Regions from separate parts of the Homo sapiens genome. Here region 2 is linked to region 1. The links come from fine-mapping of genetic effects on gene expression. A gene starts in region 1. The other region holds a variant in brackets. All regions are shown on one strand. Distances are between the middles of the regions.

The links. PIP is the estimated chance that this variant, and not a neighbour inherited with it, causes the effect. A credible set is the group of variants that fine-mapping cannot tell apart.
Region 2: its variant is the best candidate, but not a certain one, in a credible set for the expression of SWAP70 in whole blood (TOPMed, PIP 0.73).

The regions. Positions count from the first base shown.
Region 1 is chr11:9,660,994-9,666,375 of GRCh38, forward strand. It overlaps SWAP70 (switching B cell complex subunit SWAP70), which reads left to right and starts at 3,084. Exons shown (of 12, transcript NM_015055.4): 1 at 3,084-3,285. The coding sequence starts at 3,187. RefSeq lists enhancers at 2,262-2,461, 3,572-3,691 and a silencer at 2,932-3,431.
Region 2 is chr11:9,691,387-9,696,768 of GRCh38, forward strand. It overlaps SWAP70 (switching B cell complex subunit SWAP70), which reads left to right. Exons shown (of 12, transcript NM_015055.4): 2 at 2,760-2,900. Among named protein-coding and RNA genes, the nearest start is that of SWAP70, 30 kb to the left of the region's middle. The variant T/C (reference allele first, on the strand shown) is at 2,713.

The DNA of each region.
Region 1 (5,382 bases):
AGTGTTGCAAAATAAATATTAGCATTCTCATTTTACATATGAGGAAATGAAGCCTTATATTTACTCATAGATGAGTCAATGGGGAAGCCCGGATTCTTCCCGACATCTGTGTGGTAGCCATCTTCCAAGATGACCCCCATGATTCTTGCCCATTGGTACTCATATCCTTTTGTAGTTTCCCTCCCAAATCAAATAGATTTGACCTGAGCAATCAGTAGAGCATTGCAGAAATGATGGTGAATGACTTTTGATGGTGGATCGTAAGAGACATTGCAACTTCCATCTTTCTCTTTCTTGAATCAATTGAAAGCCAGCTGACGTGTTGTAAGGATACTCAAGCAGCCTGAGGACAGGCCCATATACAGAGGAACTGAGGCCTTCTGTAAACGACCCATCCATGTGAGTGAACCACCTTGGAAATAGATTTTCCAGCATCAGCCTAGCCTTCAAATGACTACAGCCCTATATTTTACTGCAACCTCCTGAGACACTTCAAGCCAGAACTATAGAGCTAAGTGGCTTCTAAATTCCTGACTTACAGAAAATATGAAATAATGTTTACTATAGTTTTAAGCTGCTAAATTTTGGGTTAATTGGTTACACAGCATTAGATTAATATAATCTGTTAGATTCTGAAGCACAACTCTTTACTTTTCTTTCTTTCTTATTTTCAATTTTTTTGTGGAGACGGGGTTTTGCTACATTGCCCAGGCTGGTCTTGAACTCCTGGCCTCAAGCAATCCTCCCACCCCAGTCTCTCAAAGTGTTGGGATTACAGGCAGGAGCCACTGCACCCAGGAAAAGCACAGCGCTTTCTATGACATCATGCTACTTTAAAATTTGTTTGGATAGGAAGGGCATGGTGGCTCACGCCTGTAATCCCAGCACTTTGGGAGGCCAAGGAGGGCAGCTCACTTGAGGCTGGGAGTTTGAGACCAACCTGGCCAACATGGCGAAACCCCATCTCTACTAAAAATAAAAAAATTAGCCGGGCGTGGTGGCTGGCGCCTGTAATCCCAGCTACTTGGGAGGTTGAGGCAGGAGAATCGCTTGAACCCGGGAGGCGGAGGTTGCAGTGAGCTGAGATCATACCGTTGCACTCCAGCCTGGGCAACAGAGTGAGACTCTGTCTCAAAAAAAAAAGAAAAGAAAAAAAAAGAAAAAAAATGCGTTTGGATTGTATGAATGAGGATGATGGGAGAAGTAGGAATTTGGAAGTCCACAATGTCCTGGTCTTGTCATAAAAAAAAGGCTTTGAAATATGTTTGGTACTTCCAGATACTGAGAGAGAAGAAGGGTCATATAGTGGTTAAACTGAACCTTGAGAATTAGGAGGTTTTCTTCGTTTCTTTTTTCTTCTTCTTCTTTTTTTTTTTTTTTTGCTACTCAGGGTAAGCTGACTTCGCATGAATAAATCAGAGGTTAAACCATGTGGTTTTGCTGACTGGCAGACTTGGGCTGGAAATGGGGAAGATAAATGATAGAAATTGGATTCTGGTAGGGCAAGAAAAGTCCTGACAAATGGTGATGAAATGGGGTAGAACCTTCAGGACAGTCACAGTGAGGGGCTGGCCACCCTTTTGCTCCTGCCCCTTCTTTCGTCAGTGGGGCCATCCTCTCCTCTTCCCCACCAGTTCCTTTTTGATCTCAAACTCACTGAAGAGGCTCCTTCTTGTTCTTCTCTTTCCAAATATCCCTTTCTTATGAAGATCTTTTCCTTTCTTAATAAGGCAAACATGTGCATTAAGGAACTTAAAAAAGCAAAACAAAACCAAACTTCATCTGAGAACCACCTCATTTTAAAAACTCTTGGTGTTTATTGTTCTCTCCAATTAGTCCAGGATTGGAGAGGAGAGGTACTGAGCCTGGCGATTTAATCAGACCTTAGTTAACCGGCAATAGTTATTATCCTAGGATGCTAGTACTGCAAGAACCCTTCCAGAACATCTGGTGCAACCCTGCTCTTTTTATACGGGATAATTTGAAGCCCAAAGAGATCAAGTGACCATTGTGACCACCGCGAACAGATATTAATTCAACAGCTGCAATCGAATACTTTTTTTTTTTTTTTTGAGACGGAGTTTCACTCTTGTTGCCCAGGCTGGAGTGCAATGGCGCGATCTTGGTTCACTGCAACCTCCGCCTACCGGGTTCAAGCGATTCTCCTGCCTCAGCCTCCCGAGTAGCTGAGATTACAGGCATGTGCCACCACGCCCGGCTAATTTTGTATTTTTAGTAGAGACGGGGTTTCTTCATGTTGGTCAGGCTGGTCTCGAACCCCCGACCTCAGGTGATCCGCCCGCCTTGGCCTCCCAAAGGGCTGGGATTACAGGCGTGAGCCACCACGCCTGGCCGAATACGTTCTTTTAAATGGTCCATCTCTTTGGATTAGTAAAATGGGTGGAGTGATTTGGAATTGGCCCAGATCTCCTATTCTGCAAGCAGAGAAACACTACAGAGAGGTATTACCCAGGTCAAACCCCTCCTAAGATGTGAATTGAACAACAGCTAGGCGTTAGGAAGAAAATGCTGCCTGACCCTGACTTCTAAACTCCCCTTAAACGTCGTCGCTGTGTCCCTAGAACCCAAGATAGAGTATGCATGAATAAACTTTTGCGAAATGAACCAACAAACTTCCCTCGAGGTCCTTCCTGCCTCCCCGCCGCCCTGCATCTCCCCGACTTGGGACTGCGCTATCATTTCAGTCCTGGTCTGGGGACTTTTCGGGGTCTTCTCTGGCCTTCTCAGACAGTGACTCCGTTCCCAGGACAGGACCAGGGATCCCTTTTTCACTGCGGGGCGCTGGGAGGAGGCGGGTAGGCTGCTCACCTAATCTCTCGGGTTTTTCCTCAAGACGCGGTCATTTGTGTGAGGTGTTGTACTCGAGCACCCAAAATGGCCCGAACTGGTCTGGGAAACATTAGGGAGATGTGTTTACCGTCCTGGCTGACACTGAAGGCCAAGCATTCTTGCCACCAGGCGTGGCTTGACTCGCAGAACCCACACTCTGGCGGCTGTGGGCGCGGCACTGGACCGGCGCCGGCAGCAGGGCGGGGCCTGGCGGGGGCGGGGCCTGGCGGGTCAGGTGACTGCGCGGCGGGCTGTGGCTGCGGAGGTTGAGGGGCGTCCGAGGCGCGGAGGGGCTGGCTGGGCAGGAGGGGTTGGCGGGGCAGCAGGGCCGCGGCCATGGGGAGCTTGAAGGAGGAGCTGCTCAAAGCCATCTGGCACGCCTTCACCGCACTCGACCAGGACCACAGCGGCAAGGTCTCCAAGTCCCAGCTCAAGGTGGGCGCCTCCTGACCCGGCCCCCCACCCGACCCTCCCCGGCGCGCTCTGTACTTCCCTTGGGTGGAAGCGGGACCTGGCGGGCCGTGACCGCAGGGCGGGGCGGGTCGGAATGCGCCCGGTAGGCCCGCTTGGGGCGGAGTGGGTCTGAGACCGGGATTTGGTGTTTACTGCCTCCCCCTTGCCTTCGGGCCATGCCCTCGGTTGGATGTGTTAGTTCCCGCGGGTCTCCCAGGGACTGGGAAGGGTGGCGGGCATAAGGCTGGGGTGAAGTCTGGAGGGCCAAGTGTGATTCCTTCTTGGCGTTGGAGAGCGGGGGGCAGAAAGTGGATTCTGAGGCGGCAATGGGAAGCTCCCTTACACAGCCTTCCCAGAATTTTCCTCTTACTCCAGGAGAGGAAGGGACTTGCCCAAGGTCGCTGGGCAGAACCTTCTGCAGCCCACAGCCCCACACCAGGACAGTCCTCAAAACGGCTAGCTGCCCCGGAGGCGACAGGGCAGTCCGGAGACGCAGAAATGCCCCGAAGCCCGGCCTCCAGGGTCCTTCTCCTTTGGGAGGCTTTTTGACTTGGGAAGACCTTCCGCCCAGCGTCTTTTAAGTTTGGAACTAGTGGACGGGGTGTACTGTGTCCCACAGGGACCTTAGTTCCGGGTGAGGAGCGCTGATCTTTCTGGCACCCTGCAAAAGCGACTGCTTTTTCAGAGTCGTTATTGTGACTGCCGGAGACCCTAGAGTATAGGGTATAAATAAAGGGATGCTTGTAAATTGAGTAACCCCAAGCAGCGAAATTGGCATTAAGCCAGCAGAAATTGGCAGCTTCTTCAAAGTAAAAAAATATAGAAACAGACAAGAAAAGCTATTCATAGGCATTTAAAAATATACATATTTTAGATCCGAATGTCCGGTTTTCTTAGCCCCTTCTGGGAATAAATTCTGAAGATTGGGTTTGTTTTGTATATTTTTGTACAGTAATCCCGTTCTTCTGAGTAGTGGCTTTTATGCCAGTAGGACTTAACATTCTCCTTGTCTTCCTTTTGCCTCTCCTTTCTTTTTCTCACTGATAGAATCATAGTCTGGAAGGGTCCATGGAGATCATCCACGTAATTTTTATTTTACTTCATTTTTAAATATTAACATACAGTAAAATTGACTTTTGGTGTACAGTTCTATAAATTTCAACATATGTATAGATTTATATAACTATCACCACAACCATGGCTTCCTCAGTTCCATCATCCTAAAAAACTCCCTGATGTTGCCCTGCCTCCACCCCAACTGTCGGCAACCATTGATCTTTCCTAATTGCTATAGTTTTACCTTTTCCGAAGTGCCATGTAAATGGAGTCATATAGTTTGTAACTGTTGAAACTGATTTCTTTTACCCAGCATAATGCCTTAGAGATTAATCCATTTTGTTGTGTGTACCAATAATTTTTTAAATTGCTAAGTAATATTCTATTGCATGGATGTATGGTAGTTTTTAGCCATGCATCTGTGAGAATTTGTGTTATTTCCAGTTCGGGGGAGTTATGAGTAGGTCTACATTTTACTTTTATTTTTACTTTTAACTTACCTATGCCATTTTATTTAAAGTAAGTTTTTAATAAATAGATGTAGCTGGGTCTTTTTTTTTATTCATTCTGACAATCTCTGTCTTTTAATTGGTATATTTAGGCCATTTACATTTAATGTAATTATTGATATGGTTTGATTTAGGGCTACCATTTTATTATAATTTGGTTTCTGCTTTTTTTTTTTCCTCTCTTTTTCTTCCATCTTTGGGATTATTTGAATATGCTTTAGTTTTTTGTTTTTTTTTTTTCTGAGACACAGTCTTGCCCTGTTGCCCAGGCTGGAGTGCGGTGGTGTGATCTCGGCTCACTGCAACGTCTGTCTCCTAGGTTCTAGAGATTCTCGTGCCTCAGCCTCCCAAGTAGCTGGGATTGCAGGTGTGCGTCACCACACCTAGCTAATTTTTGTATTTTTAGTAGAAACGGGGTTTCACCATGTTGGCCAGGCTGGTCTTGAACTCCTGAGCTCAGGTGATCTGCCCTCCTTGGTTTCATGAAGTGCTAGGATTACAAGTGTGACCCACT
Region 2 (5,382 bases), 30 kb after region 1:
TGGAGCGCAGGTCTCTTCCAGGTGCCTTGTATACTGTGCTGCCTTCCTCACAGTTTGCCTAAGTAAAGATGGTTAAGAAAATTATCACTGAATTTAGCCATCCCTGTGTTTAACAAGAGTGCTGTTTAATTGTCGAAGGCTGAAATCTTGAGTTCAAATCTATATCTTCTGCAGTGGGATCACTTAATCAAACTAAGCATCTATATGTACAAAGAGCATTGTTGACTTTAGACAACTGAAGACATAATGTTTCTTATTACTGGAGAGTGCTGGACCAGAGATTACAAAACCCGAGTTCTAGTCTCAGTTCTTCTCAGTAACTTTAGTCAAGAAAAACAAATTTAATATCTGTGAGTCTGTAGTCACCATTTATAAGATGAGGATGACAATATGACATCCAAGGCCCCTGCCAGGGCTTTAGTTAGAGGATCTGTGAAACCCTAAGGTAGAGAACAGGGTGGGTATGGGAGAGATGGTGTTTTTTGTTTCCTGAAGGCTTTGGATTAATCAGCTACTTTTATCATGTTATTCCCCTATCTGGAAATTTTTGTATTTGCCTCTATTCCTATCCTAAAGCTATCCTTACCTATCCTGTAAGCCATAAGTTACATTTTACTTCCTCTGTGAAGTCACTGTAACACATACTATTTCTCCTTTTCTGAACTCATTTATTGCCCTTACAGCTCACTCATCCATTAGTCATGGTACATTGCTGTGGAATATGTCTTCCTTTTACACCTCATTTCTAGTCAGCAGGTTAATGTAGAAGAAAAAGTATAGGCTATGAAGATAAATAGATTGATCTATGTGATCTTAGGCTGGCCACTTAAAATATATATATATATATATATATTTAATTTTAAAAATATGTACTACATTTTTGAGTAGGTTAATTTTTTTTAAAAAAACTTAATACAAAGAAGAGCTACAGTGAAGTCTTTTTCTAACCTTGGTCTCATCAAACTTGTCTTCCTTTCACAGTTACTAGTTTCTTATATATCCCTCCAGAATTTCTTTTCTTCCTCCCTTTTCTTTTTTATACAAAAGATGGCATACATATTCTTAGGTACCTTGTTTTTTTCACTTAATTTATGTTGGAGATCTTTTCATATCCGTACATAGCAAGCTTTCTCATGGTTTTTATGTTTTATGGATATACCTTAATTTAACCAGTAGTTGGGAATTGTTAACTTGGGTAAAGTTCCAAATGATTTTAAAATTTGAATGACATTTGAACCTGATCTGAGAAGTGTGCATTTCTTTAATACTTGTATTTCCATAGCATTTTACAGTTATTAAGCTCTTTATATTCTTGAAATTGATCTTTAGTATATAGGATTTACTAGGCTAATATAAATTAAATATCTTTTTAAAATTTTGCTGATTGTGGTGCAGGATTCTCCAATAAAAGCTCCACCGTACTCTTTTCATGTGCTTTACTGGCAAACACAGGGTTTGCTTGAGAAACACAGCCTGCTTTGTAGTCTTCATTACTGCATTTATAACCATTTGTGAATTTACTTCCTTAACTTACTTCCTTAAAACCAGTAGAGCATGTAGAAAAGGATCTCCACATAAATGAAGCTTTGAGAAACAAAACAAATTTAGAAAGAAGATATGCAAATTATTTTATAGATTAAAAATGTTTAATCTTAAAAAAACTCCTAACTGAAATATGTGTATGCAGAAAAAGGGACTCGCTTAATGCAAATGAAAGTATTTATTGAGATGAATGTGGCTCCTTAAGGTTAAATGTTTAGGGCTGAGAAAAATAAGGAACGTTTTTACCTGGGGTTCAACTAGGAAGATTCTCTGTTGAAGAAAATACAGCCTTAGCTATGTAATTTGACCTGTTCAGAAAGCACAAATGAAATGGAAGGGATTTAAGTTCTATCTTGAAATTTTCATTTAATGTAAAACAAGATTAATACTAAGGTAGCCCACACTGCTCATTTAACTACTGTACCTGGACTTTGAAGTGTGAACTTAGGTTATTGCAAGACCAGTAGCCCTTTATATGTATTTATGCTATGGAATGCAGGTTTTCTGTAAAATATTTTTAACCATGTTGGCGACTCCTATTTTTGCTATTTAATTTTTTCCTGAATCTAATCCAGGCCCTTGATTTCTTTCTCTTTTTATATTTATATTCTTTTATACTCATGCTGAAATTTAGCCTAGTCATAGAATTTTAGAAATGTTTAGATACTTAGAGATTCCTAATTAATATTTGGTATATTAATTTGGCCCTTTCTATTGAATAAATGAGAAAACTAAAGCCTGGAGAGGTTGTGACTTGCCCAGGTCAGCCTCCTTGTCCAGAACCCCTGGCTGCAGCCTCCCAATAATACCAGGTTCTTTCTCTGAACAGCTCTAATTGGCTGACTCTGCTCTACTTGGTGAAAAGTTTAATTTTGAACACATTCTCTTAGACTTCCCCCCCCACCCCACTTTTCTTTCTGATGTGGACAAATTAGTAAAAGACCACAGGAGTATTATATTCACAGATCTTGCATGGAGCCTGGCTCATAGTAGGCATGTAATAGAGACTAGTTCTAAGTGAACCAAACCTGGGAAGGAATGAGAAAGAATAACAGGTTACAAGTAGGGGCTTGCAGCTGAGCAGTCCTCACCCTGTTTTTGCTAGTTTATTTTCCATCTTTCTCTACCCAGGAGAGGGAGCAGCATGTTGTACTCATGGTGAAGGTGTCA[T/C]GTGCTGGTTAGTGGGAGTCTTTAAACGATTTTCTTTTCCCTTGCAGGTCCTTTCCCATAACCTGTGCACGGTGCTGAAGGTTCCTCATGACCCAGTTGCCCTTGAAGAGCACTTCAGGGATGATGATGAGGGTCCAGTGTCCAACCAGGGCTACATGCCTTATTTAAACAGGTTCATTTTGGAAAAGGTATGATTCTAACCTTTTTTTGGGTGTAGCATTGTTTGGTTTGCATGTTTCAAGTGGGCCCAAAAGCCCCCTGTTGGTGAGTTCACTAAGGAGTTGAGGTACAAAGAATCACTAGATAAACCAGAAAGGAAGAAAGAATGAGAGACTGACAGTGCTTCCTATTCTTCCCTCTCCTCCACTGTCTTCTAAACTTGGTTTGATGTTTTTCCAACTTGGTTCATTCTTTGAAATTAAGAACTGTGTTTTGTGTTAATCTGTACCTATTCTCTCTCAGGGTGCTTTAAAAAAATCAAGTCTAATATCCAGAATTTACAAGGAACTTAAACAAATTTACAAGAAAAAACCCCATCAAAAAGTGGGCAAAGGATATGAACAGACACTTCTCAAAAGAAGACATTTACACGGCCAACAAACATGAAAAAGCTCAACATCACTGATCATCAGAGAAATACAAATCAAAACCACAATGAGATACCATCTCACGCCAGTCAGAATGGTGATTATTAGAAAGCCAGGAAACAATAGATGCTGGCGAGGCTGTGGAGAAACAGGAACGCTTTTACACTGTTGGTGGAAATGTAGATTAGTTCAACCATTGTGGAAGGCAGTGTGGCGATTCCTCAAGGATCTACAACCAGAAATACCATTTGACCCAGCAATTGCATTACTGGGTATATACCCAAAGGAATAGAAATCATTCTACTATAAAGATACATTCATGCCCAGGCAGGGTGGCTCACATCTGTAATCCCAGCACTTTGGGAGGCCGAGGCGGGCAGATCACCTGAGGTCAGGAGTTTGAGACCAACCTGACCAATATGATGAAACCCCATCTCTATTAAAAATACAAAAATTATTTTTAGTACGTGTGGTGGCATGCTCCTGTAATCCCAGCTACTCAGGAGGCTGAGACAGGAGAATTGCTTGAACCCGGGAGGTAGAGCTTGCAGTGAGTCGAGATCACGCCATTGCATTCCAGCCTGGGCATCAAGAGCGAAAATCCGTGTCAGAAAAAAAAAAAAATACGTGCACACGTATGTTTATTGCAGCACTATTTACAATAGCAAAGACATGGAACCAACCCAAATGCCCATCAATGATAGCCTGGATAAAGAAAATGTGGTACATATACGCCATGGAATACTATGCTGCCCTAAAAAAGAGTGAGATCATGTCCTTTGCAGGGACATGGATGAAGCTGGAAGCCATCATCCTCAGCAAACTAACACAGTAACAGAAAACCAGACACCACGTGTTCTCACTCCTAAGTGGGAGTTGAACAATGAGAACACATGAACACAGAGGGGGGAACAACAGACACCAGGATCTGTTGGGGGTTGGGGGATGAGGGGAGGGAACTTAGAGGATAGGTCAATAGGTGCAGCAAACCACCACAGCACACGTACACTTATGTAACAAACCTGCACGTGCTGCACAGGTATCCGTTTTTTTTTGTTGTTGTTGTTGTTTTTGTTTTTAGAAGAAAAAAAAATCTGGTTTCATATATACTGGCAATAGTTGTTTTTTTTGAGGGGTCTCATCCTGTCACCCAGGCTGGAGTTCAGTGGCACGATCTCAGCTCACTGTAGCCTCTGACCTCCTCGGGCTCAGGTGACCCTCCTACCTCAGATTCCCATTATTGGGACTGCAGACGTACACCACCACACCTGGCTCACTTTTGTATTTTTTTGTAGAGACGGGGCTTTGCCATGTTGCCCAGGCTGGGGCAATGGTTGTTAAAGTGTGGAAGTGGTGGAGTAATGTGTGAATATTAAAAGTGATGATTATCTTTACTGTATAGATATTATACAGCCAACTCTTATCCCAGACTTTTCAGGGTACCACTTAGATATTTCCTCTGGGATATGTTCTGAGTAAAGATGCTTTAAAAAACCTGTGAGGTGCTTGGAAGTCAAATATCACCTATTAGTGTTTGGGGCCATGTTCGGTTTTTCCCTTGGGTTGGATCATTACAAATTGACACACTAAAATTTTGAATTTGATGCAAGAAAAGATGGTACATTTAAATAATTTTTAAAATTGGTGATGAAAAAGTTACAAAAGGTAGTACATAAGCAGTTAATACAGAAATATGTGAAATAAAAAGTGAACGTTGCTTTAATTTTTTGTAGTCTGATTTTCCTGGAGTAACCAGTGTTAATAATTTAGAGAATATCTTTGTAGACTTTCAAAAATTACCTGAAAACATACACACACATGCACCCACACACACATACACATGTACACACACCCTCAAATCAATATATGCTATTTTGTTTCAACATGAATAGGATCATATTATACATACAGCTCTGCAACTTTTTAAAAAAAGGTTTTTTTATGTGACCAGTAGGATATAAGCAACTTATTTTTTTAATTGAACAATATATTAGTGTCATCTTTCCATATCATGTACATTTAGTTTAGATATGAAAGTAATCATTTATATCAAAAGTTTGTGAATTCCTCCTTTTGCCTATTT